Regions from separate parts of the Homo sapiens genome. Here region 2 is linked to region 1. The links come from fine-mapping of genetic effects on gene expression. Tissue or cell type: transverse colon. Region 1 holds a variant in brackets; the other region holds the start of a gene. All regions are shown on one strand. Distances are from middle to middle.

Region 1 (5,208 bases):
TATACTTTAAGTTCTAGGGTACATGTGTACAACGTGCAGGTTTGTTACATATGTATACATGTGCCATGTTGGTGTGCTGCATCCATTAACTGGTCATTTACATTAGGTATATCTCCGAATGCTATCCTTCCCCCCTCCCCCCACCCCACAACAGGCCCCACTGTGTGATGTTCCCCATCCTGTGTCCAAGTGTTCTCATTGTTCAATTCCCACCTATGAGTGACATAGGTGTTTGTTTTTCTATCCTTGCGATAGTTTGCTCAGAATGATGGTTTCCAGCTTCATCCATGTCTCTACAAAGGACGTGAACTCATCCTTTTTTATCACTGCATAGTATTCCATGGTCTATATGTGCCACATTTTCTTAATCCAGTCTGTCATTGATGGACATTTGGGTTGGTTCCAGGTCTTTGCTATTGTGAGTAGTGCCACAATAAATATACGTGTGCATGTGTCTTGATAGTAGCATGATTTATAATCCTTTGGGTATATACCCAGTAATGGGATGGCTGGGTCAAATGGTATTTCTAGTTCTAGATCCTTGAGGAATCACCACACTGTCTTCCACAATGGTTGAACTAATTTACAGTCCCAACAACAGTGTAAAAGTGTTCCTATTTCTCCATATCCTCTCCAGCACCTGTTGTTTCCTGACTTTTTAATGATCACCATTCTAACTGTTGCGAGATGGTATCTCATTGTGGTTTTGATTTGCATTTCTCTGATGGGCAGTGATGATGAGCATTTTTTCATGTGTCTGTTGGCTGCATAAATGTCTTCTTTTGGGAAGTGTCTGTTCATATCCATTGCCTAGTTTTGATGGGGTTGTTTGATTTATTTCTTGTAAATTTGTTTACGTTCGTTGTAGATTCTGGATATTAGCCCTTTGTCAGATGGGTAGATTGTAAAAATTTTCTCCCATTCTGTAGGTTGCCTGTTCACTCTGATGGTGGTTTCTTTTGCTCTGCAGAAGCTCTTTGGTTTAATTAGATCCCATTTGTCTATTTTGTCTTTTGTTGTTATTGCTTTTGGTGTTTTAGTCATGAAGTCCTTGCCCATGCCCATGTCCTGAATGGTATTGCCTAGGTTTTCTTCTAGAGTTTTTATGGTGGTAAGTCTGACATTTAAGTCTTTAATCCATCTTGAATTAATTTTTGTATAAGCTGTAAGGAAGGGATCCAGTTTCAGCTTTCTATATATGTCTAGCCAGTTTTCCCAGTACCATTTATTAAATAGGGAATCCTTTCCCCATTTCTTGTTTTTATCAGGTTTGTCAAAGGTCAGATGGTTGTAGATGTGTGGCATTATTTCTGAGGGCTCTGTTCTGTTCCATTGGTCTATATCTCTGTTTTGGTTACCAGTACCATGCTATTTTGGTTACTGTAGCCTTGTAGTATAGTTTGAAGTCAGGTAGCGTGATGCCTCCAGCTTTGTTCTTTTGGCTTAGGATTGTCTTGGCAATGCGGGCTCTTTTTTGATTCCATATGAACTTTAAAGTAGGTTTTTCCAATTCTACGAAGAAAGTCGTTGGTAGCTTGATGGGGATGGTATTGAATCTATAAATTACCTTGGGCAGTATGGCCATTTTCACAATATTGATTCTTCCTATCCATGAGCATGGAATGTTCTTCCATTTGTTTGTGTCCTCTTCTATTTCATTGAGCAGTGGTTTGTAGTTCCCCTTGAAGAGGTCCTTCACATCCCTTGTAAGTTGGATTCCTAGGTATTTTATTCTCTTTGAAGCAATTGTGAATGGGAGTTCGCTCATGATTTGGCTCTCTGTTTGTCTGTTATTGGTGTATAGGAACGCTTGTGATTTTTGCACATTGATTTTGTATCCTGAGACTTTGCTGAAGTTGCTTATCAGCTTAAGGAGATTTGGGGCTGAGGCAATGGAGTTTTCTAAATTTACAATCATGTCATCTGCAAACAGGGACAATTTGACTTCCTCTTTTCCTAATTGAATACCCTTTATTTCTTTCTCCTGCCTGATTGCCCTGGCCAGAACTTCCAACACTGTGTTGAATAGGAGTGGTGAGAGGGCATCTCTGTCTTGTGCCAGTTTTCAAAGGGAATGCTTCCAGTTTTTGCCCATTCAGTATGATATTGGCTGTGTGTTTGCCATAAACAGCTCTTATTATTTTGAGATATGTCCCATCAATACCTAGTTTATTG[G/A]GAGTTTTTAACATGAAGGGCTGTTGAATTTTGTTGAAGGCCTTTTCTGCATATATTGAGATAATCATGTGGTTTTTGTCTTTGGTTCTGTGTATATGATGGATTACATTTATTGATTTGCATATGTTGAACCAGCCTTGCATCCCAGGGATGAAGCCAATGTGATCATGGTGGATAAGCTTTTTGATGTGCTGCTGGATTCAGTTTTCCAGTATTTTATTGAGGATTTTTGCATCAATGTTCATCAGGGATATTGGTCTAAAATTCTCTTTTTTTGTTGTGTCTCTGCCAGGCCTAGGTATCAGGATGATGCTGGCCTTGTAAAATGAGTTAGGGAGGATTCCCTCTTTTTCTGTTGATTGGAATAGTTTCAGAAGGAATGGTACCAGCTCCTCTTTGTACCTCTGATAGAATTCAACTGTGAATCTGTCTGGTCCTGGACTTTTTTTGGTTGATAGGCTATTAATTATTGCCTCATTTTCAGAGCCTGTTATTGGTCTATTCAAGGATTCAACTTCTTCCTGGTTTAGTCTTGGGAGGGTGTATGTGTCCAGGAATTTATCCATCTCTTCTAGATTTTCTAGTTTATTTACATAGAGGTGTTTATAGTATTCTCCGATGGTAGTTTGTATTTCTGTGGGATCGGTGGTGATATGCCCTTTATCATTTTTTATTGCATCTATTTGATTCTTCTCTCTTTTCTTCTTTATTAGTCTTGCTAGCGGTCTATCAATTTTGCTGATCTTTTCAAAAAACCAGCTCCTGGATTCATTGATTTTTGGAAGGGTTTTTTGTGTCTCTATCTCCTTCAGTTCTGCTCTGATCTTAGTTATTTCTTGCCTTCTGCTAGCTTTTGAATGTATTTGCTGTTGCTTCTCTAGTTTTTTTAACTGTGACATTAGGATGTCAATTTTAGATCTTTCCTGCTTTCTCTTGTGGGCATTTAGTGCTATAAATTTCCCTCTACACACTACTTTAAATGTGTCCCAGAGATTCTGGTATGTTGTGTCTTTGTTCTCATTGGTTTCAAAGAACATCTTTATTTCTGCCTTCATTTCGTTATGTACCCAGTAGTCTTTCAGAAGCAGGTTGTTCAGTTTCCATGTAGTTGAGCGGTTTTGAGTGAGCTTCTTAATCCTGAGTTCTAATTGGGTTGCACTGTGGTCTGAGAGACAGTTTGTTATCATTTCTGTTCTTTTACATTTGCTAAGGAGTGCTTTACTTCCACCTATGTGGTCAATTTTGGAATAAGTGCGATGTGGTGCTGAGAAGACTGTATATTCTGTTGATTTGGGGTGGAGAGTTCTATAGATGTCTATTAGGTCTGCTTGGTGCAGAGCTGAGTTCAATTCCTGGATATCCTTGTTAACTTTCTGTCTCGTTGATCTGTCTAATGTTGACAGTGGGGTGTTAAATTCTCCAATTATTATTGTGTGGAAGTCTAAGTCTCTTTGTAGGTCTCTAAGGACTTGCTTTATGAATCTGGGTGCTCCTGTATTGGGTGCATATGTATTTAGGATAGTTAGCTCTTCTTGTTTAATTGATTCTTTTACCATCATGTAATGGCCTTCTTTGTCTCTTTTGATCTTTGTTGGTTTAAAGTTTGTTTTATCAGAGACTAGGATTGCAACCCCTGCCTTTTTTTGTTTTCCATTTGCTTGGTAGCTCTTCCTCCATGCCTTTATTTTGAGCCTATATGTGTCTGTGCACATGAGATGGGTCTCCTGAATACAGCATACTGATGGGTCTTGACTCTTTATCCAATTTGCCAGTCTGTGTCTTTCAATTGGAGCATTTAGGCCATTTACATTTAAGGCTAATATTGTTATGTGTGAATTTGATCCTGTCATTATGATATTAGCTGGTTATTTTGCTCGCTAGTTGATGGAGTTTCTTCCTAGCATTGATGTTCTTTACAATTTGGCATACGTTTGCAGTGGCTGGTACCGGTTGTTCCTTTCCATATTTAGTGCTTCCTTCAGGAGCTCTTGTGAGACAGGCCTGGTGGTGAGAAAATCTCTCAGCATTTGTTTGTCTGTAAAGGATTTTATTTCTCCTTCACTTATGAAGCTTAGTTTGGCTGGATATGAAATTCTAGGTTGAAAATTCTTTTCTTTAAGAATGTTGAATATTGGCCCCCACTCCTTTCTGGCTTGTAGAGTTTCTGCTGAGAGATCAGTTGTTAGTCTGATGGGCTTCCCTTTGTGGGTAACCTGACCTTTCTGTCTGGCTGCCCTTAAGATTTTTTCCTTCATTTCAGCTTTGGTGAATCTGACAATTATGTGTCTTGGAGTTGCTTTTCTCGAGGAGTATCTTTGTGGCATTCTCTGTATTTCCTGAATTTGAATGTTGGCCTGCCTTGCTAGGCTGGGGAAGTTCTCCTGGGTAATATCCTGCAGAGTGTTTTCCAACTTGGTTCCATTCTCCTCATCACTTTCAGGTACACCAATCAGACATAGATTTGGTCTTTTCACATAGTCCCATATTTCTTGGAGGCTTTGTTCATTTCTTTTTACTCTTTTTTCTCTAAACTTCTCACTTCATTTCATTCATTTGATCTTCAATCACTGATTCTCTTTCTTCCACTTGATTGAATCAGCTACTGAAGCTTGGGCATCTCTCACATAGTTCACGTGCCATGGTTTTTAGCTCCATCAGGTCATTTAAGGTCTTCTCTATGCTGTTTATTCTAGTTAGCCATTCATCTAATCTTTTTTCAAGGTTTTTAGCTTCTTTGCAATGGGTTCGAACATCCTCCTTTTGCTCAGAGAAGTTTGTTATTACCAATCATCTGATGCTTACTTCTGTCAACTCGTCAAAGTCATTCTCCATCCAGCTTTGTTCCATTGCTGGAAAGCAGCTTTGTTGCTTTGGAGGGGAAGAGGTGCTCTGATTTTTAGAATTTTCAGCTGTTCTGCTCTGGTTTCTCCCCATGTTTGTGGTTTTATCTACCTTTGGTCTTTGACGATGGTGATGTACAGATGGGGTTTTGGTGCGGAGGTCCTTTCTGTTTGTTAGTTTTCCTTCTAACAG
Region 2 (5,208 bases), 24 kb before region 1:
ATAAATTACCCAGTCTCAGGTATTCTGTTATGATCCCCTGGAAGAGTTATACTACTTCCAGGTCTAGCCCATGGTAAATCCCACACTCCCCTCTGAGGCCACCTTCTTCCCTCTGCAGAGACCCTGGAGTTAGAGTGGATTGGTTGTGTCTCTGGCCCCAATTCTTCTCCCGAGGCTGCATTCCACCCTTTTGCTATGTGACTTTGCAGCCCTTCTCACTGCAGAGACAGGTTCCTCTCCTTGAGTTTGGGGAAGATGCAACACATGCAGGGGTTTGAAAACACATTTGTTTGTTTCTGCTTTTGTTTTTGCTCCTCTGCAATTTCCTTGAAACCATGCCTGAGGTAGCCTGTGGGAAAACGAAACAGCACCATTGACCTAGTCTTTCAGCCAATCCCACTGCATTTGTACAATGCAGTCTGACACCAGAGGAACTGCCCAGCCAAGCTCAGGCAAAATTGCTGACTTCAGACTCATGAACTAAATAAATATTTGTTTCATTTGGTGGTTGTTCTTATGCAACATTATGCTGGCACTAGAAAAATGAAACAGATGGGAATCAAAAAGACTGAATGAAGCAGAAACCCAGAAGCTACCCCACAAGCAATCACATGGGACTCAGATGTGAATGGACAATAAGCTTTTATTGCATTGAAAGGTCATTGCAGTGAAAGGTTGGGGATTGCTTGCTGCTACAGCTGAATGGATTCTATTCTGACCAATACACACAGAAAGAGATCACAGACTCCCTACCTTAGAAGAAGGGAGGTGGTAGATGAAATGAACTGTATGAAGAGCCACTAGCCTGGCCCACACACAGAAGAAGGACTGGCCCGTCTTCTTGAAGCCCATGCTCTGGTAGAGGGCCATAGCAGAGAGCTGGATGGTGCCGGTGTCCAGGATAACTTCACTGTAGCCCTGGTCCCGGGCAAACTGGAGGACAGTCCTGACCAGGGCTTTTGCTATCCCCTGACGACGGTGCTCACTGTCCACAAAGAGATGAAACAGCTGCAACCGCTTCTCCCTCAAGGTGGGATCATCAACAGGCAGAGCTCCTACCATGCCCACCACCTTCTCTTCAGACTCAGCCACCCAGAAGCAGGAGCCACGCTCACTCAGGTAGGATTTGGTAATGTCAGACATGTCTGTGCACAATGTCATGTCCACATACTCCGTCCAGGGTTTTTTGGCAAGGAACCACAGGGCAGGGAAGAGGCTGATGCTGAACACGAGGGCTAGAAGCCAGGATCCAGAGACCAGGAGTAGGGCGAGGGGCCCCCCAAGTAAGAGTATGAGGGTTCGAGGCAGCTTCAGCAATTGCCGGAAGGTGGCTGGGGCATGCTCGGCCATCCCCCGGGAGAGCAAGCCCACAACCCACTGGCGGTCGCTCTCCTGGTATTTGCGGATGTGACAAGGAGCCATGGACAGACTTCTGTGTCTGAAATCTCTAAGTCCAGGAGACAGAGCTAGGCCTCCCTGCACGCCTTTACGTCAGACTGGGGAAGAGAGAGAAAATCATGTGAGTGCCTGCATGGCTCCCAGCCTTGCAGGAACAGGGAGACCTGCTCAAGGGTGTGTCTTTCCGCGTTTGCCCATGAGGAAGCAGGCCTCTGCCACTGGGAGAAGGTAGGGTCAGAAAGACCTGCATTGGAATCTGGTTCCATCCCTTTCTAGCTGTGTGACCTTAGGCATGTCACTTAACCTCTCTGAGCCTCCATTTCTTCAACTATAGAACAGGGGAGAAGAAAACCTGCCTTCTAGAGTTGTTTTGAAGATTGAATAAGATGCCTTCTATAAAGCCCTGGTAGATGAACTACCCACCGCTCTTCCTTTTTCTGTTTCCTTTTTCTGGCTCTCTCAGCTTCTCCGTGCATTGAGGGGGCACCTACCTCAGGCAGGCCACACGTGCAACCCTTTTGTCCTTCTCCAGGGACCATACATCGCAAAAATTCTCTGTCCAACACAAGTTTCAGGAAAGGCTCCCTCCAGCTTTATTGTAAGTTTTTAGGTTGCTGAAGTGGCATAAGAGCCAAGCATAAAAAACAGCCCAGCCTCCAGATCCCAAGGAAGGTGCATGCTCAGAGCACTGTCCTTCCACCCAGTCCCCTCACCTGTCACCACAAGAGCCTTGAGTGTCCAGGGAGCTTCAGCTCTCAGCCGCTCACTGGCATCCAGGAGATACCGTCTGGGGCTTGCTCACCCCTGGAAAGTAGACTGCCTGCCTTATTGCTTGGCTCCTGAATGTTTGGTAATCATCAACCCTAGGGTCAAAGAGCTGGGCTGTAACACAGCAGGGAGCCCAGTGTGCATTCCTCTTTGTGGTCAAAGGGAACGACCTGGAGGGGGAGACTCAGGGTCTGGAACCGCCTGGGTTCCTTGCCCTTCTGGAAGGCCTGCCACCTCTCTTGCCTGTTCAGGCCCCGTGCATCTCTCTGCCACCTGGCACACTTAGTACTCTCGGTCCCTGTCCACATATACGATCCACCCTGGTCCTTGTACACATATACGACGAGCCTGAGAACTGTACCATTCACCCTGCAATCAGTCACCATTGGCCAGAAGCCGAGTCCCCATGCTTGGCAACAAGGCCCTTCCCAGCTAGGCTTCTCCTCGCTGAGGTTTCCCTGGTCCACGAAGCATCTGTTGTTGGCAGTTCCTTGCACTCACCTCACCAACCCCCATCTCCACCCATTCATTGATTCAGTCAACAGTTGTGTGTCATGCACTTCCTGTGTCCTGGGGTCATTTCAGCCATGAGCAAGGTTGACATTCGGCTTGACAGGCATGGCTGTGTGTGGCTTGTGTGTGTTCTGGCTGTTGGTCAGAGGCTGTGCCACACCCGTTGTTAAATATTTTGCACTGCAGATGTTGGGGAGGCCCAAATTCATGCTCTTGTACCCGACGTGGAGCTGATCCCAAACACTGACACATGGGTGCTTGGAGATAGAGAAAGTTGTATTCGATTTGGCCAAAGCAAGAAGGCAGGAGAGCAAGATCTCTCAACTTCAGTTCAACAAAGAAGCAGCAGCAGAATGTTTTTATGCAGCTAGAGAGTGAGGAAGGGGGAGTTCAGGGGGATTGAGAGGAAAAGTCTGTGTTTCCTCAGTCTGAGATAACACCTTGTGCAACCAGGCTTCTCAGTGTCAGCAGCTGGTCACAGTGTCCTTCAAGGCATTCATTCATTCTGCAAACTTTTCCTGACCCTGAAGGAATGTCTTCCTGCTGAACAAAGAAACAGTACATGAGCAGTTTATCATTATGTTGTGGGAACAAGGAATATTGGACCAAAAGCAAGTGGTTAACATGTGCAAGCCAGCAACGGTCTGATCAGAATGTTCATTATTTCAGTCACTAAAACATGGTGTGGTGCTGAAATCTCAAGGGGCCCAATTACAAGGATGCAACATATACAAGATAGGCAAAAGCAAAACCTAACAGAAAAAGCCCTTTTCCACACCAACTTACATGCTATTGAAGGGAAACTTCCCTTCCAAAGATTAGCTAACCTATTGATGATCAGCCACGCTGGGCCCGTCATCTAGGTTAGGTAGTTTGGACTCTATTCCAAGAGCAAGGGGAGGACATTGATATGCACGGAGGGGAGGAGGTGTGTGTGTGTGTGTGTGTGCGCACGCAAGCATCACTCTGGCTGCAGGTGGACAATGGATCTGAGGAGGTAGGAATGGAAGCAGCTACCCCTCAAGGCTCATGCCACATCCAGGCAAGAGCGGGGCCTCCAGTACAGGGATGCAGGTGCTCACTGTACAAGAGCAGCTGGCCCAGAGGCTCTGGTGGGAGCTAAAACTGGGCCTCCCTCTGGTTGCCAAGCCATGAGCCATGGCACGAAACTGAGACTGGCCAAAGGAAAAGGCAACCTTTTCTTATTTGCTCAAAGGCGTTGCTTGCCTGCTAAACTCTGCATCCAGTGGGCTGCATGGCTTGAGGCTGTGCCTAGCTCTGGGTTCACAAAGAAGCCGCCTGGGTTAGCAGAGGCCCATGAGACAGCAGTGGCTTCACCAGAGGGAGGAAGTCAAGAAGGTGAGACATGAGCCGTATGGAGGTGCATTTGGGGCAGAAATGGCAGGAGTTGGAATGATTCACACAGGGAGGAGGATGAGGAAGGGCTCAGAGACGACAGCCAGGCTTCTGGTAGGGGCATTCAGGAAAACACTGGAGAGAGCCCAGATCTGGAAAAGTCAAGGCTTCCCCTAAAGGTGCTGCCCTGCAGCCTTCTTCAGCAGAAACCAGAAGCTGGGAGTCAGCAGCAGGAACCCAGGGCCAGCCAGTGGAGGCTGCTGAGATTCCAGATCTTTGGTACCCAACACCACCTCCGAGGAAAAGTCTAAGGAGCATCAAGTCTGGGCAGGAAGTCCATGGCTCATCTTTAGAGTGTTCTCGCAACATTTCAGTGTCAAGCAGGAGTTGGCCTAGGAATCAAAAGAGGTGAGCGGTGGCTCCAAAGCACCACTGAGTACTTCTAGTGTGAGTCTAACCAATATTCAGTCAGAAACCTGCCGGTCACGTGGAGGGGGAGAGGTTTGTGCTCCGTCCCTGTGTGCTGTCTCTCCCTCCATGCTCACCCGTGGCTGTGGCTTCCTCAAAACACAGCGACCTCACTTGACATTCAGGCGTCTCTTGCTCCCAGGATTTACTGTGACTTCTGCATTTTTGTAGCTTTCCTGATAAAAGCCTGGGCTTTCCTTGTCGGACCTGAAAGATTCATTTATTCATTCAACAAACAGTGGCCGAAGGCTTGTTATGTGCTGTGCCTGGACTTGGCATGAAGGCACCAGATGTCAGAAGCGAGGCTGCTGCCCAGGAGGACACACCTGATGGGGCTCTGGGACCAGGACGATGGTGGAGACATCACATCCGGAATAACTTTGTTAGGAAGGTGAACTTGACAGTTAGGACTTAGTTCTCCTTGAAGACGTCCTTCACATCCCTTGTGAGTTGGATTCCTAGGTATTTTATTCTCTTTGAAGCAATTGTGAATGGGAGTTCACTCATGATTTGGCTCTCTGTCTTTTATTGGTGTACTTGTGATTTTTGCACATTGATTTTGTATCCTGAGACTTTGCTGAATTTGCTTGTCAGCTTAACGAGATTTTTGGGCTGGGATGATGGAGTTTCTTTTGTGGGCATTTAGTGCTATAAATTTCCCTCTACACACTGCTTTAAATGTGTCCCAGAGATTCTGGTCTTTGT

Direction of the effects. Positions count from the first base shown, and alleles are read on the strand shown. Sizes are in standard deviations (SD) of each study's normalised expression.
As copies of G replace A in region 1, the expression in transverse colon of the gene that starts at base 2,216 in region 2 goes up (moderate effect, 0.43 SD a copy in GTEx).

What was found. PIP is the estimated chance that this variant, and not a neighbour inherited with it, causes the effect.
Region 2: NAT8 starts here. The variant in region 1 is the best candidate, but not a certain one, in a credible set for the expression of NAT8 in transverse colon (GTEx, PIP 0.69).

Annotation. Positions count from the first base shown.
Region 1 is chr2:73,664,515-73,669,722 of GRCh38, forward strand. It overlaps the pseudogene ALMS1P1. Among named protein-coding and RNA genes, the nearest start is that of NAT8, 25 kb to the left of the region's middle. The variant G/A (reference allele first, on the strand shown) is at 2,176.
Region 2 is chr2:73,640,207-73,645,414 of GRCh38, forward strand. It overlaps NAT8 (N-acetyltransferase 8 (putative)), which reads right to left and starts at 2,216. Exons shown (of 2, transcript NM_003960.4): 1 at 2,112-2,216; 2 at 517-1,496. The coding sequence starts at 1,422. The coding sequence ends at 739. It also overlaps the pseudogene ALMS1P1.